Regions from separate parts of the Homo sapiens genome. Here all the other regions are linked to region 2. A link means that fine-mapping ties the variant in region 2 to the plasma level of a protein whose gene starts in the linked region. Region 2 holds a variant in brackets. A gene starts in each other region. All regions are shown on their reverse strands. Region 1 holds the start of CCL13 (C-C motif chemokine ligand 13). Region 2 overlaps ACKR2 (atypical chemokine receptor 2). Region 3 holds the start of CCL11 (C-C motif chemokine ligand 11). Region 4 holds the start of CCL2 (C-C motif chemokine ligand 2). Region 5 holds the start of CCL7 (C-C motif chemokine ligand 7). Region 6 holds the start of CCL17 (C-C motif chemokine ligand 17).

What was found. PIP is the chance, under the fine-mapping model, that this variant and not a neighbour inherited with it causes the effect. Protein levels are from antibody-based Olink assays in UK Biobank. Linkage for the fine-mapping came from a reference panel and not from the study's own genotypes, which makes the PIPs less certain.
Region 1: CCL13 starts here. The variant in region 2 is fine-mapped to the plasma level of the CCL13 protein (UK Biobank, PIP above 0.99).
Region 3: CCL11 starts here. The variant in region 2 is fine-mapped to the plasma level of the CCL11 protein (UK Biobank, PIP above 0.99).
Region 4: CCL2 starts here. The variant in region 2 is fine-mapped to the plasma level of the CCL2 protein (UK Biobank, PIP above 0.99).
Region 5: CCL7 starts here. The variant in region 2 is fine-mapped to the plasma level of the CCL7 protein (UK Biobank, PIP above 0.99).
Region 6: CCL17 starts here. The variant in region 2 is fine-mapped to the plasma level of the CCL17 protein (UK Biobank, PIP above 0.99).

What each region holds. Positions count from the first base shown.
Region 1 is chr17:34,354,122-34,359,234 of GRCh38, reverse strand. It overlaps CCL13 (C-C motif chemokine ligand 13), which reads right to left and starts at 2,755. Exons shown (of 3, transcript NM_005408.3): 1 at 2,633-2,755; 2 at 1,646-1,760; 3 at 625-1,209. The coding sequence starts at 2,708. The coding sequence ends at 1,104.
Region 2 is chr3:42,862,486-42,867,598 of GRCh38, reverse strand. It overlaps ACKR2 (atypical chemokine receptor 2), which reads right to left. Exons shown (of 3, transcript NM_001296.5): 3 at 313-3,133. The coding sequence starts at 3,096. The coding sequence ends at 1,942. Among named protein-coding and RNA genes, the nearest start is that of CYP8B1, 11 kb to the left of the region's middle. The variant A/G (reference allele first, on the strand shown) is at 2,975.
Region 3 is chr17:34,283,099-34,288,098 of GRCh38, reverse strand. It overlaps CCL11 (C-C motif chemokine ligand 11), which reads right to left and starts at 2,357. Exons shown (of 3, transcript NM_002986.3): 1 at 2,215-2,357; 2 at 892-1,003; 3 at 1-514. The coding sequence starts at 2,290. The coding sequence ends at 409.
Region 4 is chr17:34,252,648-34,257,647 of GRCh38, reverse strand. It overlaps CCL2 (C-C motif chemokine ligand 2), which reads right to left and starts at 2,363. Exons shown (of 3, transcript NM_002982.4): 1 at 2,223-2,363; 2 at 1,309-1,426; 3 at 445-926. The coding sequence starts at 2,298. The coding sequence ends at 821. RefSeq lists enhancers at 1,692-2,666, 2,667-3,641, 4,585-5,000.
Region 5 is chr17:34,267,747-34,272,844 of GRCh38, reverse strand. CCL7 (C-C motif chemokine ligand 7) reads right to left here and starts at 2,624. Exons shown (of 3, transcript NM_006273.4): 1 at 2,479-2,624; 2 at 1,582-1,699; 3 at 603-1,148. The coding sequence starts at 2,554. The coding sequence ends at 1,043.
Region 6 is chr16:57,402,085-57,407,196 of GRCh38, reverse strand. CCL17 (C-C motif chemokine ligand 17) reads right to left here and starts at 2,430. Exons shown (of 4, transcript NM_002987.3): 1 at 2,361-2,430.

The DNA of each region.
Region 1 (5,113 bases), not on the chromosome of region 2:
CACCCTGATATTCTAATTCCTCTAGAACCTGCCCTCAACTTTCATTTCTACATGTCTCCAACTTTTACATTCTGGAAGCCCATATCGGACCGTTTGGGGATATTCCCCCCAGGCCCTCTCCCCACATTGCTATCTTGGACCTCCCCTAAAAGAATCTTTGCTATGACCATACTTCCCCATCCTCTAAAGTCCATTAGGCCCAAGCACCCTCTTCCCTACCAATCCTGAGGCTCACTAGGACTTGGTCATCTGGTTTCCCTCTGAGTGTCAGGTGCACATGAAGTCTGAATCACTTGCTGCTTGGAGTGGGGAGGCATAGATTGGGGTGGGAGACTAGAGGGGGAGGGATGGGTTTACTTTTGGCAGGAGTGTGGTTTTAAAGAAAGAAATGAACTGAATATGAAACGGATGAGTTGCGAGCCAGGAGCGCCCATGCTGGGGACTGGAGCCATTGTTCCAGAACAGCCTGGGCTGGTGAGGCAGGCCCTCCTTGAAACTCAGATGAGCCAGGCTAGCCCCATGGCCAGGGCCTCTGTACATCTGCCTTCCACTGGCATGCCATCCACCCACACCTCTGAGAGCCCCTACTGGTTGGCAGTTACTCCTGAAGAAAACACCACTGTGTAGGAGATTTTAAATAAAATGTATTTTCTGCAAAATGTCAGCAGTCCTACTATTGCATTCATCTTTCCACAATAACATATTTAGCAACACCTCACATTCACAAAGAGCTCTCCTTCCTACATTGCAGCATCCCTTCATGTCCATGACTCCCACAGGCATGCTCTCAACCCCTGGGAACCGAATACAAACCCACTGCCAGCAGCTCATAGTGGAAGGGAAGGGGGCTTAGAGACAGCAACCTACTTGCTCAAGGCCTTGCTTTAGAAAAGATCAGCAATACTCAAATAAACTCCAAACCAGCAACAAGTCAAATAATAGCCAATATTACTTAACACATAGTACATTTTGAATCACAAAACCGAATGCATCCTATTTGAAAATTATGGTAGAAGTATTCCAAAGCATAGAAGAGGAGGCCAGAGGAGAATGGAAAAGTCATTTCACGTACTCCAGCTTGATTTCAGTAGGGGTAGCAGAGTTCAAGTCTTCAGGGTGTGAGCTTTCCGGCCCAGGTGTTTCATATAATTCTGGACCCACTTCTCCTTTGGGTCAGCACAGATCTCCTTGCCCAGTTTGGTTCTGAAGCTGTGGAGGAAGGAGATCTGGCACAGTTAGATGGAACCCTTTGAGGGTTTACCCAGGAGATGACACACTGGGTTCTAAACCTGCCTGGTCCACCTACTACAGGTGAAGGGGCACCCCTCCAGGACAGGAAGTAGGAGGTGTGTGGACAGAAGGGGTCTCTGGAGGCAGCCACTGCTCTTGCTGCCCCTGGGAAACTGATCCTGGCATCTGCTAAAGGGTGTGGGCTGGTGCCCATCCAGGAAACAAGGTGTGGGAAATTATAGGTCCTCTTTGGACCTGTTGTGCAGCCAAAATTGGAGGATTTGCATCACACAGTCTGGCTAGATCTCATCCTAAGATCTCAAGTCAGTCTGACGTCTGTCTCCTGGGGCAGAACTTTGGATTGGGGAATGTGGGAGTGGGGAGGAGCCAGGTGAGCAGGGATTTTTCTACCCACATGACAGCCTTCTGGGGACACCTGCTGGTGGTGATCACATAGCTCTTCAGCCTCTGCAAGGAGATCTTCTTACTGCTAAATGTGAAGCAGCAAGTAGATGGGACGTTGAGTGCATCTAGAAATAGTTACAAAGAAAAAGACTTTGAGGATGTGTTAGGCTTTTCTCAGCTTGAATACAGCAGGGAGCATCTGTATGGGATGCAAAGCAAAGAGGAAGAAATAGATCTTACTCACCCCCAAGCCCAGCACTCCCACCCTAGACCCTGAGGTGAGGTGGGACCTGTGACATGTGCCTCAGGATCTCAAAGGCTCAGCTGCATGGTGGAGACATGTCACAGCCATCTAGGGGAGGCCACGGGCAAGGCCAGTGGGAAAGGTCCTGGGTGTGGTCCCAGATCTGCAGAGTTTGGGACGATCAGATGAGGTCAAAGAAAAGGCCCTAAATCTGGAGTCAGAAGCTTAGGTTTCATTCTTGCTCTGCAATAACCTGGAGGTGGATGGCTAGGGTCCCTTCTGCCTCCAACATGGGCTTCAGCTTTCTATCTTTAAAATTAGATGTTAAAGTGAACCTCTGAGGAGCCTTACTATTCTGGTGGGCTTAGAAGTGGGGCACTTGGCTGGGCCTGGTGGCTCACGCCTGTAATCCCAGCACTTTGGGAGGCCGAGACGGGAGGATCACTTGAGGTCAAGAGTTTGAGACCAGCCTGGCCAACATAGTGAAACCCCTTCTCTACTAAAAATACAAAAATTAGCTGCACGTGATGGCGGGTGCCTGTAATCACAGCTACTCAGAAGGCTGAGGCAAGAGAATCGCTTGAACCTGGGAGGTGAAGGTTGCAATGAGCCAAGATCGCACCCCTGCACTTCAGCCTGGGCAACATAATGAGACTCAATCTAAAAAAAAAGTGGAGGAGCACTCGGGCTTAGGTCTTCCTTGAATAGAGAAACAGAGGGAAAGAGAGGGAGAGTCGAAGGGAGGTGACTTACCTGGCTGAGCAAGTCCCTGGGGGTTGAAAGCTGCTGTCATGAGCAGCAGGCACAGAAGCACTGCAGAGACTTTCATGTTGAAGGTTAAGAGTTGGAGATTTCACAATGTTTCTTTGCCTCTCTGCTCCTCTGGCTGTTCCGCCGGCCTTTTATAGGGAGTGGAGAAGCTTGGAACTCTCAGAGGACCTTGGCCTGAGCAGGGCGTTGACCAAGTCATGATGAAGGGGGATCCTGAATCTGCTGAGCTGGAGCTGGGCACCAAAGACTTTTCTAGGAAATGCAAGAGGGAAGCTGAGGGCTGAAACAGCATGGCATGGCTTCCTTCTGGCTGTTCAGGCCACAAGGAGCCAGAGAGGAGAAAGGGACACAGACGCGCCCCAGCCATTCACCATGGGAAGCCATAAAGGAGCTGTTTTCTTCTTACTTTCTCCAACAGGAAAGAGAAAAACAATGAAAATTAACTCCTGTAGAGAAAGAGTGCTGTGCTAAGGACTCTGTTCACGTTATATATTTAGTTTGAGGAGGTACATACCATTATTATCATGCCCATTTCATAGAAGAGGAAACGGATGCAGAGAGATTAAATAACTTGACCAAAATCTTATGGGAAATGAGAGGGAAAGCTAGAAGAGAAAGCTGGTCTGCTTATATTTTATCACCAAGGCAGTTTCAACTTTTGTTTAGCAGCAGAAGTCTTTTTCCAAGTCAACTTTTATGTGGAAGTCTAATATCTGAAACAGATTAAGTCAGATTTCTGATGACAGGGGCTCCTTACATTACATATTGTGTCCCCTTCTGCCCCTCAGGCCCAGAGGGACATGGTTCAAACACCTCTGATTGATGCAGGCCCCGTGTTTCCAGGAAGGACCATTGGGTTTCTAGAGCTGTTGATGGGAGGGCTGGGGTGGCCCTCAGAGCAAAGAAGTGAGGTGTTTGGCCCATTCCTGGGCTCCTCCTGCGAGGGGCACATATCTGGGAGCTGGGAGGTGGGGAGGGAATGGCTTAAAATGGTTGAACATGTCCCTTTCCCACTCATCCCTAGCTCCAAGACTTGGCACAGTTTTTGTGCCTTCCTGGAATACTCATCCCTCTGCATTCCACTATAGCAAAATAAGCCCAGTGAAAGTAAAGGGAAGAAATAAAGAGCTAGGATTAGAGAAATAGGAAACAGTAAATATTAGAAAGGATAGATGAAGCCCAAAGCTGGTTCTGTAGCCTATAATTAAGCTAAAACTCTCCTGAACTGAAAATGAAAAAAAAAAGAAAAAAGGGGCTGAGGCGGGGGGATCACTTGAGGTCAAGAGTTCTAGAGCAGCCTGGACAACATGGTAAAACCCTGTCTTTACTAAAAAAAATACAAAAATTACCCAGGCATGGTGGCACATGCCTGTAATCCCAGCTACTTGGGAGGCTGAGGCAGGAGAATTGCTTGAACCTGGGAGGCCGAGGTTACAGTGAGCCAAGATTGCACCACTGCACCCCAGTCTGAGTGACAGAGTAGGACTCTGTCCCAGAAAAAAAAAAAAAGAAAAGAAAAAAGGAAAAAGGTACATATAACCAGTTGCAGAGCCTGCAGACACCAAAAAGAAAATGATAAGAACCTTATGCCAAAAATTTAGTTTAGAGGAAATGGATGAATTTCTTAAAAATCTAACTGACCAGGGTGCACAAATAAATAAAAAATAGAAAGTCATTCTAAAGCTATTAAAGAAATGGAATCAGGAATTGAAAATCTTCCCACAAAACATTCTCTGGGCTCAAAGGGCACAAACAGCTAATTCCTCCAAGCACTGAAGGAAGTGGTCATTTCAATCTTGTGCAATCTCTTCCAGAGAATATCAAAAGATTGTACACCACTCAATTCATTTTGAGACCTACCTAACTTTGACACAAAAATGTGTCAAGACTCACCTGAGAAAAGGATATTATAAGCTTGTCCCTTCAGACACACATTCCATTCTTTTCCATTCTATTCTCTGCCCTAGGAAGCCAATCTTGGTGGGTTACATCAGTGAGGTTGCTGACCTTCTAGCTTCTGACTGGGTTTAGGCACAAGGGAGCTTCTGAGGACATTAGAGCAGGGAGAAGAGTTAAGTTGAGGTTCTTCTCCTCTGTTGTCTCCCTGTGTTCCTCAACCTGGATACATCCCTCAACTAATGGTTTTAACTTCTTTCAAGGTGGTTTCTCCATGACTCTCCTATCCAGGTTTGCTGAGCTATCCCCTGTTTTTCCTTTTTAGATTTAGGAATATAACCATGTTCTTTTTAAAAAATTTTTATTTTATTTTAAATTTTGGGATACATGCGCAGGATGTGCAGGTCTGTTACATAGGTAAACATGTGCCATGGTGGTTTGCTGCACCTATCAACCCCTCACCCAAGTATTAAGCTCCATCCACATTAGCTATTTATCCTGACGCTCTCCCTTTCCCTCACTCCCTGAGAGGCCGCAGTGGAATAGCCAAGACAATCTTAAACAAAA
Region 2 (5,113 bases):
GAGGCTGGTGGACATAAGGGCAAAGAGTGTAGCCAGGGTGAGGGCAGATCACATAGGCCTTAAAGGATTACCGTAAGGAGTTGGGCTTGTTAAGTAAAAACTATGGAAGGCCATTGTTTTGGACTAACCTCCTGCACTAGGTCCCAGCTGACCAGACCAAACCAAAATGGAATCTGTCGTATTAAAGTTCCATGTCCTCAAACCAAAACTAAGTTGTTATCTGACCTTTGAGACTCCTGGAGACAGAGTTAACAGCCAAATTCCCAAACATGACAGTTTCAGTTGGCGTAATAATGCAGACAGTAACCATGCTCATGATAATGAAGTTCCCCGTTTTAATCATTATTAAAAAGTAACCTGAAGAAAACTGATGTCAACCACCCTGTTCCGGCCGCATATAGAAAGTAACTTTGAAATGATGAATCTGGCCCTGTGCAGTGGCTCACGCCTGTAATCCCAGCACTTTGGGAGGCTGAGGCAGGCAAATTGCTTGAGCCAAGGGTTTCCAGTCCAACCTGGGTAACATACTGAGACCCTGTCTCCACAAAAAATACAAAAATTAGCCAGGTGTGGTGGTGTGCTCCTGTAGTCCTAGCTACTTGGGGGCTTAGATGGGAGGATCACTTGAGCTCAGGAGGTGGTGGCTGCAGTGAGCCATGATTGTGGGATTGGACTTCAGCCTGGATGACAGAGTGAGATCCTGTCTCAAAAAAAAAAAAATCAATCTTTTTTTTTGTTCTTCATTTCTTTCTGCCTTTGACAGCCCCTTCCTGTCTATAAAACTAACCTCTTCTACCCAGCTCATTGCAGCACTCTCTGTATTTTATGGAGTGAATCTGTTCCTGATTCAATGAGTCTGTTGCCTGATTCTAGAATTGCCAATAACGCTAATTGAGACCTTTAAACTAAATTTGTTGTAATCTGGTGTTTTGACAGGCTGCTGCTCTGAGGGAGGCGGAAGTAAAGGCCGAGAGTATCAGGATCACTCTGGCTGCTAGGTGCAGATGAGATGGGAGGAGAGCAAGAGAGAGGAAGGACAGGGGCCAGTTGGAAAACTATTACAGCAATTCTCCAGCCTGGCCAACATGGTGAAACTCTGTTTCTAATAAAAACACAAAAATTAGGGCCAGGCATGGTGGCTCACACCTGTAATCCCAGCACTTTGGGAGGCCAAGGCGGGTGGATCCCAAGGTCAAGAGATCGAGATCATCCTGGCCAACGCAGTGAAACCCCATCTCTACTAAAATTATAAAAATTAGCTGTGCGTGGTGGCACGCGCATGTAGTTCCAGCTACTCAGGAGGCTGAGGCAGGAGAATCGCTTGAATCCGGGAGGTGGAGGTTGCAGTGAGCCGAGATCGCGCCATTGTTGTCCAGCCTGGGCAACAAGAGTGAGACTCCGTCTCAAAAAAAAAAAAAAAAGAAAAGAAAGAAAGAAAGAAAAAAAATACAAAAATTAGCCAGGCATGGTGGCAGGTGCCTATAGTCCTGGCTACTTGGGAGGCTGAGGCATGAGAATTGCTTCAACCCAGGGGGAGGAGGCTACAGTGAGCGGAGATCTCGCCACTGCATTCCAGCCTGGGTGACAGAGCAATAGAGCAAGACCCTGTCAGAAGGAAGGAAGGAAAGTAGGAAGGGAGGAAAGGAGGAAGGGAAGAAGCGAGGGAGGGAGGGAGGGAGAGAGGGAAGGAAGGAAGGAAGGAAGCAAGGAAGGAAGGAAGAAAGATTGTAGCAATTCAGAAAAGAAAGCGTGGTATCCTGGAAGCAAGTGAAGAAAGTGGAGGAAGAAGGCGGGGCGAGCAAATGCTGCTGATGGCTGAGAACTGAGAACTGACCACTGGGTTTAGCAACACAGTCACTGAGGCCCCTGGAGAGAGCACTTTGAGTGGACACCCAATTGAGCTGGTTCCCATCTGTTCCCACCAGACCAAAATTTGGTCACTCAGGCTGATTTATTCCCCACATCCTCCTTGTTAGGGTAGTTCTCAGACTGCCTCTCTCCAAGGTCATTCATGCCAGTCATTTCCTCTTGGGCAGTAAGTATGCTGCTCTCAGAACAGCTGGATAATGAGGCCTGGGCAGTGCCAGGTGCCAGGTGCCATCCAAGCACGGCAGCCAGGAAAGCCTTCAGGTACTGGCGGAAGCGGTGACTGGAGAAGGCATACAGGATGGGGGAAAAGCAGCAGTGAAGGAAGGCGATGCTCTCTGTTACCTGGAGTGCGTAGTCTAGATGCTGGCTGACCTCACAGTTCCCGAATACTTGCAGGTCCAACAGCGTATGCAGAAACAAGGTGAGATTGTATGGGAACCATAGCACGAAGAAGGCCACCACCAAGGCTGCAGCTATTTTTAAAGCCCGGCCCTGGCCTGCGGGCCTCAGCCTCACCAAGACACAACCAATACGGGAGTAGAAGAAGATCATGGCAAGGAGTGGAAGGAGAAACCCTAGGAGGTTCTGCTGGAAGCGGAGGAAGAGCTTCCAAATGGTCCCATGCCCGCCGAAATCTGCGTGGCAGTTCCACACACCCTTGGGATTTTCATGTGTCTGTACAAAGACCATATCAGGGATGGAGACGGCCAGGGACACAGCCCATACTATGGTAGCAAGGAGCAGGCTCTTGGCCCGGGTCCTCAGCCTGTGGTAGGGCTGAGCATGAACGATCTCCAGGTACTTGTCCAGGCTCATGCAGCTAATGAAAAAGATGCCACTGTAAAAGTTAATAGTATAAAGAGTGCTCACCATCTTGCACAAGAAACTCCCGAAGACCCAATGCCAGGCCACGGAGATGCCCCAGAAGGGCAGTGTCACCAGAAACAGAAGGTTGGAGATGGCCAGATTCAGCAGATAGATCTCAACCATCCGCCTGCGAGGCACGTAACGGAGCAAGACCATGAGAAGAAGGAGGTTCCCGCTGAGGCCCAACACAAAAATCAGGCTATAGAAGACTGGGAGGAAGACTTTGCCAAAGGACACC[A/G]CTGCATCCTTCCTGCAGAGCATGAAGGCCACTTCATCCAGGTAGTCATAGTAATAGAAGCTGCTATTCTCAGAATCGGCATCCTCAGTGGCGAGTGGCTGCGGAGAGGCAGTGGCGGCCATGTTGGAAGGAAATGCCCAGTCCCGACGTCCTGTAGTGCTGCGGGGGGAAAATATGGTGAGACCTAGCATTCTCTACCTTTCTCTAAACCCACTTTTGCTGCTGCCCTGGGATGTCCAATAGACTCTTCAAATCTACATCAGTACCTGCAGTCCAGCAAGTAAGAGCAAAAGCTTAGGGAGCCATCTGCACCACTTAATAGTTATGTCACCAAGATATCCCCTCACCTTTGTCTTATAACTGAATCCCACTTACTCTGGGACACTTACTCTTGGATAAGTGACTAACCTTCAGGTGTTCTCAGAGTATTTAATTATTTCATTATGGTTTTGTTTCTTCATTTAAAAAGACCTATAGTGTCTTTCAAATTCTTCTTTATTCTTTAGGGATATCAATTCATCTATTTAATGTGTCTCCTGACCCTTCCTCATGTATGGTTTATAATTTCTTTAATGACAGCTTAGCTTCAGTGGGGCTTTTTTAAAAAATTTTGTTTATTATACTTTAAGTTCTGGGATACATGTACAAAACGTGCAGGTTTGTTACATAGGTATATACATACCATGGTGGTTTGCTGCACCCATCAATCTGTCATTTACATTAGGTATTTCTTCTAATGTTATCCCTCCCCTAGCCCCCAATCCCCCAACAGGCCCAGATGTGTGATGTTCCCCTCCCTGTGTCCATGTGTTATCATTGTTCAACTCCCACTTATGAGTGAGAACATGCAGTGTTTTGTTTTCTGTTCTTATGTTAGTTTGCTGAGAATGATGGCTTCCAGCTTCATCCATGTCCCTGCAAAGGACATGAACTCATCCATTTTATGGCTGCATAGTATTCCATGCTGTGTATGTGCTACATTTTCTTTATCCAGTCTATCATTGATGGGCATTTGGGTTGGCTCCAAGTCTTTGCTATTGTGAACAGTGCTGCAATAAGCATATGTGTGCATGTGTCTTTATAGTAGAATGATTAATAATCCTTTGGGTATATACCCAGTAATGGGATTTCTGGGTCAAATGGTATTTCTGGTTCTAGATCCTTGAGGAATCACCACACTGTCTTCCACAATGGTTGAACTAATTTACACTCCCACCAACAGTGTAAAAGCATTCCTATTTCTCCACATCCTCTCAAGCATCTGTTTTATCCTGACTTTTTAATGATCATCATTCTAACTGGGGTTAGATGGTATCTCATCTCATTGTGGTTTTTATTTGCATTTCTCTAATGCCCAGTGATGATGAGCTTTTTTTTCATATGTTTGTTGACTGCATAAATGTCTTCTTTTGAGAAGTATCTGTTCATATCCTTCACCCACTTTTTGATGGGGTTGTTTTCTTCTTGTAAATTTGTTTAAGTTCTTTGTAGATTCTGGATATTAGCCCTTTGTCAGATGGATAGATTGCAAAAATTTCTCCCATTCTATAGGTTGTCTGTTCACTCTGATGATAGTTTATTTTGCTGTGCAGAAGCTCTTTAGTTTAATTAGATCCCATTTGTCAATTTTGGCTTTTGTTGCCATTGCTTTTGGTGTTTTAGTCATGAAGTCTTTGCCAATGCCTATGTCCTGAATGGTATTGCCTAGCTTTCTTCTAGGGTTTTACGATTTTAGGTCTTATGTTTAGGTCTTTAATCCACCTTGAGTTTATTTTTGTATAAGGTGTAAGGAATGGGTCCAGTTTCAGTTCTTTGCATATGGCTAGCCAGTTTTCCCAACACCATTTATTAGATAGAGAATCCTTTCCCCATTGCTTGTTTTTGTCAGGTTTGTCAAAGATCAGATGGTTGTAGACCTGTGATGTTATTTCTGAGGCCTCTGTTCTGTTCCATTTGTTTATATATCTGTTTTGGTAGCAGTACCATGCTGTTTTCGTTACTGTAGACTTGTAGTATAGTTTGAAGTCAGGTAGCGTGATGCCTCCAGCTTTTTTCTTTTTGCTTAGGATTGTCTTGGCTATATGGGCTCTTTTTGGTTCCATATAAAATTTAAAGTAGTTTTTTCTAAGTCTGTGAATA
Region 3 (5,000 bases), not on the chromosome of region 2:
TAAAACAACATTTACTTCCATTTAATGAGTCACACTTTGGGTTCACAAGAACAATGACATTTTCATACTGATCATCTTTGCCAGGACCTTTACAAGATTCCAGGGAGGAAGAGAGGAGAGGGGGAACATTGCCCACACGTGACAGGGGATCGAATTGGGGCTCCCAGGGGGTAAAGAATCTGCACAAAGCTTTACAGTTTAAAAATAACTGATATTCATGGAGGATAAGTTTTAAAGCCTCAATAAATTAAATGCAATACGTTTTTTTTTTAAAAAAAAAAATATATATATATAATAAAACCCATGCCCTTTGGACTGATAATGAGGTTACCTCAGAATGCATTGTAAGAAGGGAAAACAAATTAGGCAACACTCAGGCTCTGGTTTGGTTTCAAAAATGGTGATTATTTATGGCTTTGGAGTTGGAGATTTTTGGTCCAGATACTTCATGGAATCCTGCACCCACTTCTTCTTGGGGTCGGCACAGATATCCTTGGCCAGTTTGGTCTTGAAGCTGTGGGAGATACAGGATGCAATTGGAAGGATTGTTTTTGAAAATTCTGCCCATTTGACCCTAAATATTTAAGGACCATCTGCCCCTGGACAAAGGGTTGCTACGGAGAGGAGGAAGGATGAGACTCTTGGGTTAGTTGCTGCTCTTAAAGGCCCAGTAAAACCATCTTTGCTCTTGACTTGAAGAAATTGATATGACTACAGCAATCTCCCAGGCAGGGAGCTGGGAGTGAACACTCACTTGTGAAAATTAATGAATTGGACCATAGAGGTCAAACTATCAGAGTCTATGACTCCCAGCAACTGTGACACAGTTCTTGACTCTGTGCCCTAGACATTATTTTTTTGTCTAGGGGAGGGTGAACTTTATTTACTTACATCACAGCTTTCTGGGGACATTTGCCACTGGTGATTCTCCTGTAGCTCTCTAGTCGCTGAAGGGGTATCTTCCTATTGGCCAGGTTAAAGCAGCAGGTGGTTGGGACAGAAGCTGAATTTTGGGGAAAAAAAATGAACAGAGAAAAAAATGAGCCACATGATGATACATAGACATTTCCAAGCATGACTTTGTAAAGGAAGTTAGGAGAAAGCAAGGAATTGCGAGAGGTGGAGGGAGAATCCCTCTGCTCTGAAGTCTTATGTGTCTGGAGGATGCTGTCCTGTGTCTTCAGCATCCTCCCCTGTGCACTGAGGACTCATCATTACTGTAGAGTGTATGGACAAAGCTTGGTCAATGTGACAAATGCTAGCTCTGTCATTATAAAGACCTACGTGGCCATGTGATGGTCATGGTAATTTTCACCAAATATTCTCCATCCTCTGTTTTGAGACACAAGGTAGACTTGCATTTCTTGGCCACTTTTGTTTGGTTGGAGGCATTAATTAGTTTTGATCAATAAAGAAGGAGACAAAGTGATGGGTGTCATTTTTGAGCCACAGTGCATTGCCTATGCAAGACTCCTGAGAGCTTTCTTCTGCTTTATCACAGTATCCATCAATGTTCCCCCACATGGGCAACTTCTCCATCAGTCTAGAATCCTGAGTATAAAATGCAGAAGCCTGAGCCCATACATTATAGATATTTAGTACAAGTGAGAAAGTAACTTTTGTTAATTTAGTTAATTCTGTTAAGTCATTGATAATTTAGAACTGTTTGTTACCATGCTATGCACTGGCTCAGTGGGACCGATACACTCAGTAAATTTGTCACCAGAGTATGGGAAAATGAGTTATGGAACAAATCTCCTAGATAACTTTCCCAAAGAGTGTCAAAATAAGTCACCTCAAGAGATCCCCCTGGGACCTCGTTCTTCTCTTAGCCACTGTCTCTGAAAGCTGTCCTGGAGTCGAATTAACATACTGAGCTTCTAATCAACAGATTTTCCTTCTCTCCCACTGCCAAAAATGCCCACCATGCCCACAGTAAGACAGAGCCATTCCCCATTCCCAAACACTGTAAGGATAGCTGGGTATGGATGCACCCAGCAACCCTCTTGAATGTGGGGAAAAGACTCGGGAGCTTTCTAGTTCTGGCTCTTCCAGTGACTGGATGTGAGGTTGAGGCATTTCTTGTCCACCCACAAAACCTGTTTCCCTATTTTTCAAATGGAGAATTTGCAGTGAGTCTGTAAAGATTCTTGCTGACCTAGTAGCTCTGGAGGTGGTTACCTTACCTTTCCTGTAAGGAGTTGGGGGGCTTACCTGGCCCAGCGAGCCCCTGGGGGCTGAAGGCAGCTGCTATGAGCAGCAGCCACAGAAGTGCTGCGGAGACCTTCATGTTGGAGGCTGAAGGTGTGAGCTTTGGCGTGAGAGGTGGTGGTTTCTGGGTTGGTCTCAGCCTCTCTGCTCCTCTGGCCCATCTGCCTGCCTTTTATAGGGAGCAGACAGTGTGGGAGATTCCAGGGAAGCCTTTGCCCATGCGGGGGTCACGATGAAGGGATTCCTGATTGCTGACCAGATTCCAGATCCTAGGAAGTCAAGCAGAACAGAAGAGAGGCAAGCTAGTAGGAGGGACTTGGTACATTTTTTAATCCATCTGGATCTTGCCTTGGAAAAGGAGGGGAATATGTGGTTATGAAATGAAGTTAAACATCTGTAGTGGGGGAAGAGAGCAAGAAAACCAAGGCCCTAGGGGATGAGTTGAAATGAAACACCTGTAGTTGGGGAAAGGAGCAAGGAAACCAAAGGCCTGGGGGATGAGTCGATCTAAGAACCTTCCTTGATTCCTGTGTTCACATGGTGGTCTTGAGGATTTTGGAGACCAGGAAGGAGCCCCAAAACTTCCATTAGGCTCCCACCCAGATGCAGAGAGAGCTCAGCAGCCCTGCACATAGTTGCATCTCTGAACCAGGAAGGACAACACACCACAGCTTTGCTGCTGTGTTTCAATGTAATGATCACAGAATCTTAGTCCCTGAAATTTTAGCATGATAGGACATCAGAACTGGATAGTTTCTATTAATCTTGACTTCTGAGGCACTTTAAAACCATTTGCTTAGCTGCTAAAGCCCTTTTCCAAATGGAATTAAAACAAACCCCAACTCATCAAATACACTGTAGTGAAGGGGATTTGTTTGAAATAGAATAGGCAGCCTCTCGTGCCCTTATTCCCCAGGGAACACATTTAGGGAACACATTTGGAAAATCAATCATCTAGTTCCCCCCTCACTCTCTGAGCACACATTGCAGACAAGGTATCTGATGGCTAAAAATATCAAAGAGAGAGGCAACACAAGAACCTATACATATCCCTTTGTTCATAACACTAGGCACCCTAGTTGGAGAGGGTATAAGGGAGGCAAAGTCTTTAATGGAGTCACTGCAGCGGATTACAGCATTGAATACTGGTGTGGAGGTACTGCAAACCTGTTTCCTGTTTTTTCCTGCACACTCTCATATCAAATTGATTGATTGGTACAGTAGCACAAACAAGAATGTTAAAGATTCTGAGGAGTTGACTTGCGTTAGTTAAATACTGTGTTGTGGTTGACTGGTGATGTCTGTCATGGGCACAGGATTAGAGACAGCTCTTGCTGTCCTGCAAAGTCTCTAAGTGCCCATCTAGGATAATTGGTCTATAATTACCTAAAAAGTTAACTATAATTACCAAATAGAGGCCAAAAATGTGGAGTCTTCCCTGTTCTTTCCTGCTCCATTCCTGGTGGGTTAGTCTAATGTAGAACCTGAATTCAGGATATCTGCATTTGGATGATGGCTCTGTGACTGACTAGCTGTGATACCATGGACAACTTACTTAACCACTCTCTGCTAGGGTAAGAGCAGGATACTAATCATGTGTACTTTAGGGAATTGTCGTGTGAATTAAATGAGTTCATGTATCTAAACTGCTTAGAAGAATGACTAAATCACTGTAGGTACTCAGTGAGTAGAAGTTACTGTTTTTTATTATTAGGAAATAGGGCCGGGTACAGTGGCTCACACTTGTAATCCCAGCACTTTGGGAGACTGAGGCAGGCAGATCACTTGAGGTCAGGAGTTCAAGACCAGCCTGGCCAACATGGTGAAAACCTGTCTTTACTAAAAATACAAAAAATTAGCCAGCCATGGTGGATGGTGTTTGTAGTCTCAGCTACTCAGGAAGCTGAGGCATGAGAATTGCTTGAACACAGGAGACAAAGGTTGCAATGGGCAGAGATCATGCCACTGCACTCCAACCTGGGCAACAGAGTGAGACTGTGTCTCAAAAAAAAAAAAAAAAGAAGGGCAGATTGGGAATGCTGGAAAGACCTCAGAGTCTGGATATTTCTCCAAATATTCTTCCAAGTTTTCCCACTGCTTCCAAGTAAAGATATGCTACCGCAGGGATGGTTTCCAAGAATGCCTGAGTTGCACATGTGGCAGATACGAAGTTTTAAAAAATTCTCGGCAGAATAAATTTGGAATATTATTGACCTCAGAGGTGTTTGTCTGACGTGGTTTAATGATTGTTTCTGTAGTAAGAATAATTTCATAACTCTGGCGGGAATTTAAAGGAATTATCAGCAAGCGATTATTCATTTTTGTGTTTTCCTTGAAAAATGGCTTTGGAGTTAATGGGCTTTGGATTTACTCTACACCTGAAAAACCTCAGTGGCTCAGTGGAAATAAATAAAATCAATCTTTAGATATCCAAGCTCTGCAGCTGTTTCATCCAGCTCACTGGCCATCCCTAGCAAGCAGGGGCAGCTTCAAGGGCTTTTTCTCTTTCTTTCTTGGAGGCTTTCTTTTCAGCAATGAAGTAGAGTAGACCAATTTCTTGCCTGTGATTTGGTGCCTGATGAATGAGGGGCCTTGATCAGGAATGATCCTGAGTGATGGGCAGGAAATGGATCCCCCCTTGTGAAAACAAAATATTGACTTCTAAAGAGTTTTTTTTCTTTTTTTTAATTGGAAAAGGTATCTTTTATTTTTATTATTATTCTTTAAGTTCTGAGATACATGTGCAGAGCGTGCAGGTTTGTTACATAGGTATACATGTGCCATGGTGG
Region 4 (5,000 bases), not on the chromosome of region 2:
TAACTCTTTCCTTATTTCCTAATACTGGCAGTGTCTGTATTACTCCAGGTTGGGGTATTAATTGGAGAGGTACAGATTGGGGGGTGGGTAGCCCAGTTAGGGGGCAGTTGCAATATGTTAAGGGAAGAATTGCATGCAGGGGTCAGGGTCTGTGAGAAAAGGAATGGGGGTTGGGCTCTTGCTAAATGGGTGACCAGGGTCATTGGACTCTGGGCTGCTTATGTTGAAGACTGGAAGGGTGGTGCTTTAATGCCTAACTGGCCTGCCATAAAGATTCTTCTACGGAGACTCAGAGGAGACCACCCAGTGGAGAAGACCGGGGCCAATCCACTTTCCCATTCCTTCAAAATGTAAGCCCCACCCTCTGAAATCATGTTCCTTTGTCACCACCAAGCTCATACTCTCAGCTTTGTAATTTCCTTCAAGAAAACACTGGAAGTCAGGTTTTGTACAAAAATATATTTATTTGGTGTAATAGTTACAAAATATTCATTTCCACAATAATATTTTAGCAATGCATTGGAATGTTAAAAAAAATTCTTTGTATTAATGATTCTTGCAAAGACCCTCAAAACATCCCAGGGGTAGAACTGTGGTTCAAGAGGAAAAGCAATTTCCCCAAGTCTCTGTATCTAAAAAACACTAGTACCATGAAAGATAAACTTAAAACATCAATAACTTAAATAAGAATTAACATTACTTAAGGCATAATGTTTCACATCAACAAACAAAATTCATTATAATAAAATAAAACAGGGTGTCTGGGGAAAGCTAGGGGAAAATAAGTTAGCTGCAGATTCTTGGGTTGTGGAGTGAGTGTTCAAGTCTTCGGAGTTTGGGTTTGCTTGTCCAGGTGGTCCATGGAATCCTGAACCCACTTCTGCTTGGGGTCAGCACAGATCTCCTTGGCCACAATGGTCTTGAAGCTGTGGGGAGGGAGGACAGAGTTAGATGAAGTTCCTTTGCAGTTTTGGTCTAGAAGTGCAGCCCATTCTGCACCAAAGGGCTGCCATGGGAGCTAGAGGAGGAACGCAGGTGGAAGGAGGGAACCCAGGGCAAACTGCTCCTATAGGTGTCCAGGTGGAGCCATCCTGACTTCAAGCTAAAGAAATTGGGGTGTTCTGAATAGGCACCCAGGTGGAGAGTGATGTTGGGGTTCACTTTTTCCCTTGGTGCCTCAGTTTTCCCATTGGGAACCTTTGTACATTAAGTTAAATAGTGCACTCTCTGACTCTAGGTTTATGAGGCTTGTCCCTTGCTCCACAAGGAAGAACTTCAGGCCAGGGAAGGTTGGTGTGCTGAACTCACATCACAGCTTCTTTGGGACACTTGCTGCTGGTGATTCTTCTATAGCTCGCGAGCCTCTGCACTGAGATCTTCCTATTGGTGAAGTTATAACAGCAGGTGACTGGGGCATTGATTGCATCTGGAAAATAAACCACAAAGAAAAAGCATTTTAGGATGAACTGGATTATTCTGATCTTAAGAGCAGAAAAGAGTCATGAGGAAAAAGCAAAAGGCAGGCAGGAGAAGACAAAGAGCTCATTAAATCCCAGTGCTTCTGCCTATACCTCAGAGCTAGAATGTGATCTTTGACCCAATGACTCAGTTTCCTATGCTGTAAAATGGGTATATAACATTGATAATGGACAGAGAGAAGGAGGAGCTGTTAAAGCTAGATAATGCCTACAAGTGTCATTAAGACGGACCAATAATCCAGATGATCAGCACCAGGGAAGATCAGCTGGGGAGCCCCACTATGAGCCTCCTTTTAGACTCTGAATAGGCTATGCCTGGTCATGAGTTTCCCTGATACTCATTACCTCTGCAGAGTCACCGTCTCTGGAAGCTAAGGTGAATGAAGCACAGACCAGATTCTGGGTCTCCAGCGTGTCTGGAAACAGCCTACACACCCACCCTCTCTTTGATTACCCTGATCCCCAAACTCTGCTGGAAGCAGCTGGGGGAGTAACTGCGCTGAGTGTGTTCCCAGAGCTGGAATCCTGGAAGGAGCTGGATTTGGGGTTCACAGCTGGAATTCTAGTTCAGGCTCTGCCGAGCAGCAGCTGTGTGGTTGGGCTCACCCCTTGTCCTTTTCTGAGTCACCTTATCTTGGAAAAGTAGCGTTAAAGCAAGACTGTGGGTACCACGTCTGCTTGGATGGTCCATGATAACTCAGAGAGAAGACAATGTGGTTCAAGGAGAAGAAGAGGGGGCCTTACCTGGCTGAGCGAGCCCTTGGGGAATGAAGGTGGCTGCTATGAGCAGCAGGCACAGAAGGGCGGCAGAGACTTTCATGCTGGAGGCGAGAGTGCGAGCTTCAGTTTGAGAATTGGATGTTTCTGGGTTAGTCTCAGCCTCTCGGTTCCTCTGGCTGCTGTCTCTGCCTCTTATTGAAAGCGGGCAGAGGGAGAGAGGGCGGAGTCAAGCAGGAGGAGGGATCTTCCATGAGTGATAAGTGGGCTGTTAAATCTGCTGAGCAAATGCAGCATCCTGTGGATTTCCAGGAAGTAGGAAAGGGAAGCAGGGGGTCAGGACGAGACACTTTTTCCATTCACTGCTGAGACCAAATGAGCAAATGGGGAGGATGGGGTGCCATTAAGCCCAGACTGACCACAGATGTGAACTAAGAGGGTTATTTTTAAGGATTCTGCTTTCTCTGAAGCGAAAACTGCAGAAAAGGAAGGAAGCGAGGAAACTAGATGAAAGCATGTCAGGCTCGCTGCCAGCTTACCTTCAGGCCACATTCCAAGGGGCCTCCCAGCCAGGAAGGAGCTCTCAAGCTTTGGCCGGCTCCCTGACAATGCATTAAATCCATTTGCTCATTCAAATGCAGAATAGTAGCATCATAGAAGCCTAGCAGAACTGTAGGATTGTGTAAACATTGAACTGAATTCTAAGAGTTCTAGGGTTTCAGACTTGGACAAAGGCATAGACAGCATGTAGTGCTGCAGAAGAAATGCCAGTGTCATACTCACAGAGTGCTTACTCTGCCAGGAATATTCTCAGACCTTTACAAATATTAACTCTGTAAATTCCCCAACTTTATCTAGTAGGGATTGCTAATTTTCATGTTATAGATCAGGCAACTGAGGCACAGAAGGGTTAAATAGCCTGCTCAAGGTCCCCTCGAGCACAGAACCCAGGCAGCCCTGTCCCCAGTGGGCTGCCACCTCTCTGACATACTGCTGGAAGGAAACGTGTACAAGTCCTCCAACTAGTTGCCTGCTTGGGTCCTCTCTCTGTCCTCAGCATCTTCCAAATGGGCAGACAGCTAAAGGAGAATCTAGAAACATTCCTCATGGCTAAGTCATTATGAGTTAGGAGGCTGTTGCTAGCATAGCAGGCAGCAGTGGACAAGAAGTTCATCCCTGGTTATGGCAGCTATTCTCCTGGCTTCCTTCTTAATTTCCAAGGGACATGAGTAAGCAGTGGAGGAGTATTTCGGGAATTGGAAAGCCTGACTTCATTCCTCAGTTGTGCCTTAGATTTCCTCAGAAACTACAGAAGCACACTGATAAAAACCCAAAGACCTTAGAATTCATTTCAGTGAACTGTTGTCTCTTACAAATATGATAGGAGTACTTGAGGCATGTTAATGGCTGGGCTGAGTTTAAAATTCTGATCTCTCGATTCTCCTAGCCCACTGCCTCCTCCTTCTGAGCCTTGCGGTGCCCTTGCCCAATGGGCATACAAAGACTAGTGACTTCTTTCATAAAGGGTCACTGAGGCAATGTCTATAAATGCATGGGGTTTCTTGAAAGAAAACACTTTTCACTACACTTGTAAAAAGAAACGGGTTGTATTCAACAAATGACTGTTTTATTTCTAGTAAGTGGTCAGTAATGGCATTGTTGAGTGCATTCAGGGAGTCAGGTATGGTGCTGACATACTTTCCAGCGCTGCCTGCCCAGTCCTCCAACCAACCCAGCTTTCGTTAGGTTAAAACTGAAGTTATTTGTCCAGTAACTCAGACAGAATAGTAGATGTGCTGAGACTCCCACCCAGGATGTTTCCATTCCAGAATCTCTTCTTCCTGGGACTAGACTTGATGTCTCATGATGGATATTGGTTTCCTGGAGAATCCCAGAGCAGAGACTCTATGGAGTGGCCATTTCAGACTCTGGTGGAATTACAAAAAGCAGGATGAAGAGAGAACAAATCAACTCGAGCCCTGCTTTGCTTGTGCCTCTTGAGGAGCCTTATTCTTGTTCTGCCTGAATCTCACTAGTTACTCCTTTTCTCCCCAACCAGTGTTGAAACTTCTCTGTGTTTGTCTCAGTCCTCTGCTCATGCCTCAATCCATTCTTATCCAATGAATAAAATGTTTCCAGGACTAGAGACTGTGCAACTTTGTGTAGGAATTTCTTCCTAGGCCATCTCACCTCATCTTCCAAGAAGTTTTCCTCATATCAGGGGAAACCTCTCTCTAATCAGTTAGTGCATCCTTTACCATGAACTTGGTGGACCGCATTCAATTTCCCTTTATAATCCAGTCATGCTTCGGGTTTTCTCTAGGTTAACAAGCTGAAAGATGCTGAGATCTTTAAATAAGTCTCTCCTGGCTTAGTCATATCAGCATCACTCATAGAATCCCAGAATCAATGGGCTTATAGACATCCTGTGGCATGACCACTTGTTTTTATCTGATAAAGCCACAATCCAGAGAAGGAGACCAATTAGCCCATGGTCACAGAGAAAAACTTCCCAGCTTTGCTGGCTGAGTGTTCACATAGGCTTCTGAGTGTTGGAAGCATGTCTCTACTTCAGGAAGGAGTTGTCATCTCTGGAAAGTGACTTGGCCTTTGCATATATCAGACAGTAAACACAGGGAAGGTGAAGGGTATGAATCAGAAAAGAAAGTCTTCTGGAAAGTGATAGCTGTCTGCCTCCCACTTCTGCTCTGTCAAGAAAAGATGCCCTCCCCCGCTGGGAGGTCAGTGCTGGCGTGAGAGAAGTGAGTGGAAATTCCCACTCTGAGGAGGCAGCTTTGGAAGTTC
Region 5 (5,098 bases), not on the chromosome of region 2:
TTGTCCTTGAATGAACTGAATACTTATTCACATTTTCTGAATCTCATTGTTTAAGGTTGACTTTGGTGTTTGGGGGTGAGAACTGGTGGGCTGAAGAAGGGGTAGAAAGGGATGTTGGACTTGGTCTGAACACCAATGGTGGCAGAAATCAATGATGGCAGGCACTTGCCAAATCATCTGTTGGTCTCCTACTTGATTTTTTAATGAAAGTGACATTTGTATTTACTAGACTAGAGGATTGATTAGAAGGGGGAAAACCAGCCAGTCACAAGGCTGATAGAATAGAAGAGGGGACAGGCTTTTGGGTAGAGCGTGGGATGGTGAGAAAAAGAATGAGTTTGGGAAAAAAGAAAGGTATTTGAACAAGTGGCTGAAGCAGATGTCAGATCTGGAGCTGGGGGGTGGGTTCATCTGGCCCCAGCCTGTGGCTGCCTCTCCCTAACATGCAGGTGAGCCTGGCCTGGGGGAAAGCCCAGAGTCCATTACGCGCTCATTTCTCCACAATGTGAGCCCAACCTCTGCAACCACGCCCTTCACCTTGTCACCCTGTTACCCCCACCAGCTTTATTACTTTATCCTTTTAAAAAACCATGAATGGCAGCTGTTATACAAAAATCTATTTTATGTGAAAATTTGGGAGTCATACATATGCAAATATGTAATTATATAATAACAATATGCTTCCATAGGGACATCATATCTTAACAATTAAAGCAAATCTTTGCACTGATTCTTGCAAGGACTTATACAATACCCCCATGAGGTAGAGAAGGGAGGAGCATCCCACAGTTTTTACAGCACTGAGATGACATATACATCCAAGGCTTTATGTTCAAAACCCACCAAAATCCATGGAAGATTAAATTAAAATATTAATAACTTTTAAAATCTACTAAGAAAAACCATGATTCACATTATTACATAAAGCTCATATTCCTTAGAATTAGATTAAAATAATCTCAGAACCACTCTGAGAAAGGACAGGGTATACAAATTATTTGTTTCTCAAGTCATGGCTTGTTTTCAGTTCAGTCATGAATGTTCAAAGCTTTGGAGTTTGGGTTTTCTTGTCCAGGTGCTTCATAAAGTCCTGGACCCACTTCTGTGTGGGGTCAGCACAGATCTCCTTGTCCAGTTTGGTCTTGAAGCTGTGGAGCAGAAAGGAGACAGTCAGATGGAACACCTTGAGGGTTCAGCCTGGGAGTGTGACCAAGTCTATGGGAAATCTGTCTAGCCCATCAGCCTAGCTGATGGGGATGCCTCAGGGATGAAGGAAGAAGATAAAACAAAGGAAGGGGACTCAGAGAAGCAGCTCTTTTTGGTAGCCCAAGTGAATCTCTCTTGGTTCCAGGATGAAGGAACGAACTGAGATGTAAAATGATAGCTGGAAAGGGAGCTGAGAGTGAGAAGCCACTTTCTTTACTTGTATTGTTTCTCACTGGCAAATGTCTGGGATAAGGTTAGAGATGCTGTATGCATCACAGTATTTGACTCCAACTCATTCTGATACTAGTCCTATTCCCTGCCCAGGGAAGAACCTAGGACTGAGGTGTGAGGGGTGGGTGGTCATCGTCCACATACATTACAGCTTCCCGGGGACAGTGGCTACTGGTGGTCCTTCTGTAGCTCTCCAGCCTCTGCTTAGGGATTTTCTTATTGATAAATCTGTAGCAGCAGGTAGTTGAAGTATTAATCCCAACTGCAATGAAACAACAAGAAGAAAAGTCCATTGAGGGTGTGTCCTGGGTCTTTCTGTTTGTAAAACAGGGAATGGTAAGAAGAAGGAATCAGAAAGAAAGGAAGAGGTGGAGGGAAAAGCTGCCCATCCCAAACCCAATGTCTCTGCCCTTTGAGGCATTTCATAAACTCCCTTTCACTTTTATGGACTGTGAAATAGGGATGCACCATCACCAGTTGAAAGACGGAAGAGGAATTGATGGCTACTCTGGGCATTGCTAGGAGGGGCTAATATAATAATCCAATTCCTTAGAGCAAGGGTACCCCAACTATGGATCCCCTTTTAGGCTCTGAGCATTCAATGCTTGGTCATGAGTTTCCCTGATACGTACCACCTCTGCAGAGCTGCTGTTTCTGGAAGCTGGGCTTCCACAGACCAGATTCTGGGTCTCCCGGTATCTGGAAACAGCCCGCACACCCATCCCCAGAAGCCTCCTGTCTTTGATCACCCTGATCCCAAATTCTGCTGGAAGCAGCTGGAGTGGTAACTGCACTGAGGGTGTTCCCAGAGCTGGAATCCTAGAAGGAGCTGGATTTGGGGTTCACAGCTGGAATTCTAGTTCAGGCTCTACCCAACAGCAGCTGTGTGGTTGGGCTCACCCCTTATCCTTTTTCTAAGTTACCTTATCTTGGAAAAGTAGCTGTTAAAGTGAGACTGTGGGTATCAGGTCTTCTTGATTGGTCCAGGATAACCCAGAGAGGGGGCAATGTGCTTCAAGGAGAAGGAGAGAGGGACCTTACCTGGCTGAGCAAGCCCCTGGGGGCTGAAAGCAGCTGCTGTGAGCAGCAGACACAGAAGTGCTGCAGAGGCTTTCATGTTGGAGGGTGAGGGCATGGGCTTCCACATGAGAATTGGAGGTTTCTGGTTTGGTCTCAGCCCCTCTGCTCCTCTGGAAGCTCTGTCTCTGCCTTTTATAGGAAGCAGAGAGGATGAATCATAGAATGGAGTAATAAATCTATGGAGTAATAAATCTGCTGAGCCAGTGCACTTCAGTGGGAGGATAGGAAATGACAGTATGAGTCGAGGCTAGCCTGTTTTTCAGCTAAGACCAGGAGTGGTAGGTGAGGTAGGGTCTATGTAGAGGAAGACCACAGTATGTAATCTATGGCTATTATCAAGAGACCAGTTTCTCTGAAATGAGACACATTCTATAGAAAAAGGAAGGAATCAGGGATACCAAAGTCAAAGATATGTAAGGGATATTCCCCTTTTCCCTTTGGAGTGGTATCCCTAGGACACGAGTCCACAAAGAGACATTCAAACTTTGGTTCAACTCTACAAAGGACTCAAAGATTCTTCACTGTCTTAAATCCTGGTGGCTTTCTAAAACCCAGAGAAAAGTAAAATAATAGAACATTAGCAGAAAAATAAAATTCAATATTCTTAGAATAATAGTACCTAAAATTGTAGTGTCTATTTCAATAATCTATTGCTGCATAGCAATCTATCTGAAAACAGTGACTTAAAACAATAACAATCTTCTGGGTTTTTTTGCTCTTGACTATATCACAAGGCCTTCATTCAGTGTCTGGGGTCTGGGCTGGGAGGACTTCAACAGCCAGCAGTTGGACCAGATGGAATTTCTCAGGTGTCTCTCTCTCTCTCTGTATGTGTGTGTGTGTGTGTGTGTGTGTGTGTGTGTGTGTGATCTTTCCAGTGGTCCCTCCACATGGCTAGATATTTTGCATGATGGCTTAAGGATCCCAGGTGCAAGGTTAGGGAACATAGTCATACCTCTTAATGGGAAGAGTGTAAAATAATTTGAGGATATGTTTTAAAACCACTATTTGTTTTATAGGCTATCGGAACTGCACAGCATATCAAGATCTTAAAATACTGTGTTTCTAAAACATCTAATGAGCTGTGAAAATATTTTTCCAAGTAAAAGAATATAGGGAAGGCAAATTTATCGACAAAATCAGAGACCTTCAGTTTGAATCAGAGACAAGAGACTTCTTGTCATTCTTCCCACACACATATCTCAGAAATACAAAGAATAAATTTTGGAAACCACTAATCTAGCTCCTCATCTCACATACAACTAGCTCCTCATCTCACATACACATTACAAAATCACCAACTAATCGCCTTCCATATCAGTGAAAAGGGGTTTGATGAGAGACCATGGGTGGGGTCCTCATGCCTATAACTGGGCCATGGATCATGGACATGGAATGCAAAAAAGGAAAATTATTCAATGGGGGAATTGAGCATTATACAACTTTGAATATTAATTTGGGAGCAATGCAAGGCTTTGATTCTGGTTTTAGCTTTATGTCGTTTTATCTTACCCCTATGACTTTGCTCAGGCTACTCATTCTCTCGATTATCTCTTTTTCAAATTGTTTTTACTCCCAGCTCCAGAAATTGGTGAAGAGTTGGCCTACTTTCTATCTCCTTATTTATGGAGTCTTCCCAGCTCACTCTAATGTAACACATTAGAACAGCATATTTTCTAACCCAGGGTGTACGTTCCATCCACCTGATGCTTCTAAAAAGCAGAATCCTTTCCTTTGACTTTTCTTTCTTTTTCTTTTTTCTTTTATTTTGGAAGACAACTATCATGGATAACCTGCTGAATGATCGATGAAGTTGGAGTAGAACACGGGGGTCCTGCCCAGACAGGTCAGGAGCTCAAGGAAGTACTCATGGGTTCCAGTTGGTTAAACCTTTTTCCTTCAGAAAATCCTTAAGTGAAGTACCCCAAGATGTCCCTGCCTAAGATCCCAGAGAAAATGCCTGCTTATATTTATGATGGAAAGACCTGTACCTGTCACCTACAAGACCTGGGAATGGTAAAAATAAAAGGCTGCTGAATTGTTGCAGAATGTTGTAAAAACTTTTAAATAATTTAAAAACAATATAAGCTGGTTGTAGAAAATATGGCAAAATTAGAAACACTTATTTAAAAAAATTGTTGTACATTATCAACATCAGAAGATGTAAGTGGTTAATTTCCTTCCAGATTAAAAAATATATATTTTTAACACTTAGTCACAAAAGAATGTCCTTCTTTGTCTCCAGTAACAATTTTTGTCTTAAAATTTATTTGTCTGATATTATTAACAGTATAGCCACTAGCTCTTTTTTGATTATCATTTCCATGGGGTGACTTTTCCATACTTTTACTTTCAAGTTATCTGAGATTTCAGATTTACAACATGTATCTTATAGATAGCATACAGTTGGTTTATTTTAAAAATTCATTTACTCAACCTTTGCTTCTTGGGGGTTTTAACACTTTTACATTTAGTGTAATTACTGATGAAATAGGATTACCATCTGATATTTTCCCTTTTTTATATATTGATGTCTCTTTTGTTCCTCACTTTTTTAATTACTACTTTACTTTATGAACCA
Region 6 (5,112 bases), not on the chromosome of region 2:
TGACCCCCTTTCCCTCTGCTGACAACATGATCCTGTCTCTCCACTTCCATAAAGACCTCCCCTTGACTTCAACACCCTCGCATGCTGCCCTCCCATTTCTCCTTTCATTCATGACCAAACTGCTCCGATGTGTGGTCTGTACTTCCCTCTACCATTTCCTCTCTGCCCACTTGTGATTTAATTAATCCTCAGCAATGTGGCTTCCAGCTCTGATGCTCTAGGAAAGGTGCTCTCACTGAGCCTCTTGATCCCCTCCAGCCACTCCCTGAACCTCCCACTGCCTTACATTGGGCAGTGATTACCAGCAGAGGCTCTGGAATCATTACCTACAGCCCTGAGTCCCAGTCACTCTTCTACTTGTTCCTGGTTGTGTGACTAACAGCGATTTTATGAACTTCAGTTTTCTCATCTGTGAAATGGGTGTGATGATAAGACACTCCCTCATGGTATGACCTGGAAAACTAACTGAGATGAAGTCTATAAAGTTCCTAGTCTCCAGCTGGCTCAGGGAATCGCCTTGTCATCCCTGGGAACCTACCATCCTTCTTGATGCTCCTCCCACTGGGATTTGGGACATGGTTCTTCCCTGAGCTCCCTGTGAGCTCCTCTTCTCAGAAATGTCCCTGAGCTCTCACTATAGGCTGGGGTGGGTGTTGGGGCAGGGGAATCTCAGCAGTTAAGTCTATTAGTTTACTTTGTCCTCACAACAGCTTCAGGGAGTAAGAACTATTAGTTTCTACAGATGAGAAAATTAGGAACTGACCAGAGTAGTTTAAGCAACTGGTCCACTGTAATCCCAGCACTTTGGGAGGCTGAGGTGGGAAGATCGCTTGAGCCCAGGAGTCTGAGACCAGCCTGGGCAACATAGTGAGACTCTGTCTCTACAAAAAAAATAAAATGAAAATTAGCCAATCATGGTGGTGCACGACTGAGCCATGACTGTGGCACTGCGCTCCAGCCTGGGCAAAAGAGCAAGATTCCATTTCAACAACAACAAAATAAATCTGCTTCATGGGCACAGAGCTAGCTGGTGGCAGGAGCAAGCCTGGGCTTCTGTCCTAGACTTTGTTTTTGCCTCAAGCAACCTTCCCTTCCTCCCTGACATCATCTACCCCAGATCTTTTACCTCTGGATAAAGACTTCTTTTTTTTTTTTGAGACGGAGTCTTGCTCTTTCGCCCAGGCTGGACTGCAGCAGCGCTATCTCGGCTTACTGCAAGCTCCACCTCCCGGGTTCACGCCATTCTCCTGCCTCAGCCTCCCAAGTAGCTGGGACTACAGGCGCCCGCCACCATGCCCGGCTAATTTTTTTTTTTTTTTGTATTTTTAGTAGAGACGGGGTTTCACCGTGTTAGCCAGGATGGTCTCGATCTCCTGATCTCGTGATCCACCTGCCTCGGCCTCCCAAAGTGCTGGGATTACAGGCGTGAGCCACCGCACCTGGCCTGATAAATACTTCTTAAATCTCTGTCTCCAGCCCTGACCAGTAACTAATCAGACACACCCACCTGGACACTCCTCCTTCCGGCCCATCTTTCTGTGGCACCCCTCAGCTCTCTCTGCCTTGCAGCCTGGCCAGCTCTGTGCAGTTCTGTCCCCCACACTAACCTGTGAGCTGCTGGGAAGCAGAAGTCTGTCCTGCTATGGTTCACTCAGCCCCAGGTACCAGAAGGGCAAAACCGAGTTCCCTCTCACACCAGCCTCCTTTTTTTCTGTTCAAGCCAGCATTGTTTCCCATCTCCCCATCTGCCCCCAAGTCTGAAACTTTGCCCTTGACTCATTCCTCGCCTCCATCCCCCACATTACATCAGGCAGAGACTCTGCCCAGCGCTGTCTTCAGTGGGAGCTTGGCTTCCTTGCTTCCTTCTCATCTCCACTGGCTCAGCCCTCATCCTTCACACCCAGAGAGTCTCAAAAACTTCTGGGCCTATTTCTTCCTCTCTGGTCTCTCCTGACACCTCCCTCATCAGCTGCATGCCCACATGTGGTGGATCTTTCACAAGGGCTGCCCTGACCATGTAATGCCCCCTTCCTCCAAAACCGTCAATGGCTCCCTGCTTCCTTCCCCATCCAGTCAAAACTTTTCAGGCCAATCTTGAAGCTGTACCTTCCATCTAGCCCCTCCTTCCTATTCAGTCTCATCTCCCTGCTCCCCAACATTGAGCTTTCTTGAGGGCCAGTGCGTCCCCTCACTTTGTGACTTGGTTTGCTGCTTCCAAACTCCTGTCCCCTTCTTGTATGGATTATCTTCCCTTGATCCAAAGTCCATCCACCGCTCATCTAACACATGCCCTGAAAGATCCAGCGAGGGGGTCACCTCACAGTGGAGGGGTTAGGAGCAAAGACTCTAGGTCAGGTCACCTGGTTTTGAATTCAGCTCTCCCATCAGCAGGCGGTGACACTGTGAGCTCAAAGTCACTTCTCTCTGAGCCTCAGTTTCTACAGCTGCAAAATGAAAATAATAACAATAATTACATTAGAAGGCTTTGGTTTGCATCAACTGCCTTACTGCTTATATCTGGCAAATAGTACACGTTTCTGACTTTAAATATCATCTATATGCCAACCACTCCCAAGTTTCTCTCGCAAACTCCAGCCTCCTTCTACGTCCAGCTGCCTACTCGCCATACCAAATAGGCAGCTCCAACCCCCCAAGTCTGAAGCTGAATTTCTGATTCCCACCCACCCCTACACCTGCTCTCTCCTCCTTCTCTGCCAGCCCCTTCCTTCCGGTTACTAGGGCCAGAAACCTGGGCGCTATCCCTGACGCCTCTTCCTCTCGCCCCCAACTTCCCATCTGTTGGGTGAGCTCATGTCTCTGCTTTCCAAATACACCCAGAAACCAGCATCAATCCCTGGCTTCCTACAACTGCCTTCTGGGTGCTCTCCCTGTCTCCATCCTTGCCCCCTACAGTGTATTCTCAGCACAGCAGCAGAGGGACCATGAATCTCCCGTGTTCAGAACGTCCCCGTGGCTCTCCACCTCACGCAGAGGACAAGTCCAAGACCCTCCAGCAGCCACGAGGCCCCGCGAGTTCTGTGCCCTGCTCTCTGCCCACCTGTATCTCCTGGTTCCCTGGTTCACTCTGCCCCAGCCACCCTGGCCTCCTCCCTATGCCTCAAACCAACCAGACAGACATGCTCCTTCCTGAGGAGGTTTGCACGGACTGTTCTTTCAGCCTGGAATGTTGTCCCCAGATACCTGCAGGACTCACTCCTTCACCTTTTTCAAACTTTTTTAGGCCGGGCGTGGTGGCTCACGCCTGTAATCCCAGCACTTTGGGAGGCCGAGGCAGGTGGATCACTTGAAGTCAGGGGTTCGAGACCAGCCTGGCCAACATGGTGAAATCCCATCTCTACTAAAAATACAAAAATCAGCTGAGCGTGGTGGCAGGTGCCTGTAGTCCCAGGTACTTGGGAGGCTGAGGCAGGAGAATCACTTGAACCCAGGAGGCAGAGGTTGCAGTGAGCCAAGATCACACCACTACACTCCAGCCTGGGCAACAGAGCAAGACTCTATCTCAAAAAATATATATATATATATATTATATATATTTATAATATATATAATATATATTATAAATATATATTATATATATTATAAATATATATTATATATATTATAAATATATATTATATATATATAAAATATATATTTATAATATATATAACATATATATAATATAATATATATATTATAATATATATATTATTATATAATATATATAATATAATATATATTATAATATAATATATATATTATAATATATATTATAATATAATATATATATTATAATATATATATTATATATAATATATGTTATATATATTATAATATATATATTATATATATTATAGATAATAATATATATTATATATATTATAGATAATAATATATATTATATATATTATAGATAATAATATATATTATATATATTATAGATAATAATATATATTATATATATTATAGATAATAATATATATTATATATATTATAGATAATAATATATATTATATATATTATAGATAATAATATATATTATATATATTATAGATAATAATATATATTATATATATTATAAATATATATATGTATTTGTTTAGATTACATCTTTCAGTGAAGTCAAATTGCATGCCATCCCCATCTCTTCCTCTGCTCTTTTTTTTTTTTTTTTTTGCTGAAATGCTTATATCCTCTGACATGCTAGGCCATTCGCTTACTTATGTCTGCTGTTTACTATCTGTCTCCCACCTGTACCCCCACCCCCATCCTACTGGGATGTAAGTTGCATGGGACAGAGGTTTCTGTTTCTTTTCTTTAATGGAATATATCTCGGCACATGGTAGGCCTTCAATACATAGTTTTTGGATTAAGTGAGTGAATGGATAAATGGCTGGTGTTGTTCCTGAAGCAGAATGCAGAAACCCTTCTTGTTACTCTCACTCTTACCAATGGACTTGTCTCAATGTCTCTCTGATGCCTGGGCTCCAGGACTTCTGAGCTTCCACTCAAGCCTTGTAAATGAGTGCCTTTTATTCATTGCTAGAGTCTGACTCTCTTTCCAAGGAACATCTGTCCCTGTTTCCAAGCTACTTCAAAGGCAGGTCTATGGTCCCCTGATGACATTGGGAAAATTTGAGGTTCACCCCTCAGGGTGTAGTGACAGAAGTCACTGAGAACTCAGAAGTCCTCTGCTCCTAGTCTGGCAGCCTGCCTGCAGTCGGGGTGGGGGGATTGTCCTGCCAAACTCGACCCTCTGGGCACCCGAGGAAGATCTGTTCAGCACCAGGGTCAGTGACAAGCACCCAGCATCCTGGGAAGAAGCCTCACACCCTTTCCAAGGAGCCTGGTGGATCTGGCCTCTTTGAAAGGCCTTGGGAATCTCAGCCACTGCAAAAGCCAGCAGGGAATGGGGTCACGACTCAACAGCATTTGGAGATTTGACACGTCGCACAATGCCACCTGGGTCATGGCTCTCCCCAGGGGAGGCTGAGGGTATTGGGAAGGGCTGTGGCCACTTCTGAGCAAGCCCCAGACCTGGGAAGCAGGAGTCCCTAGAGAGCCCTTTGCAGGGAAGAACCAGCACCTCAGCTGCCCTCTGAGCTGTGGCTG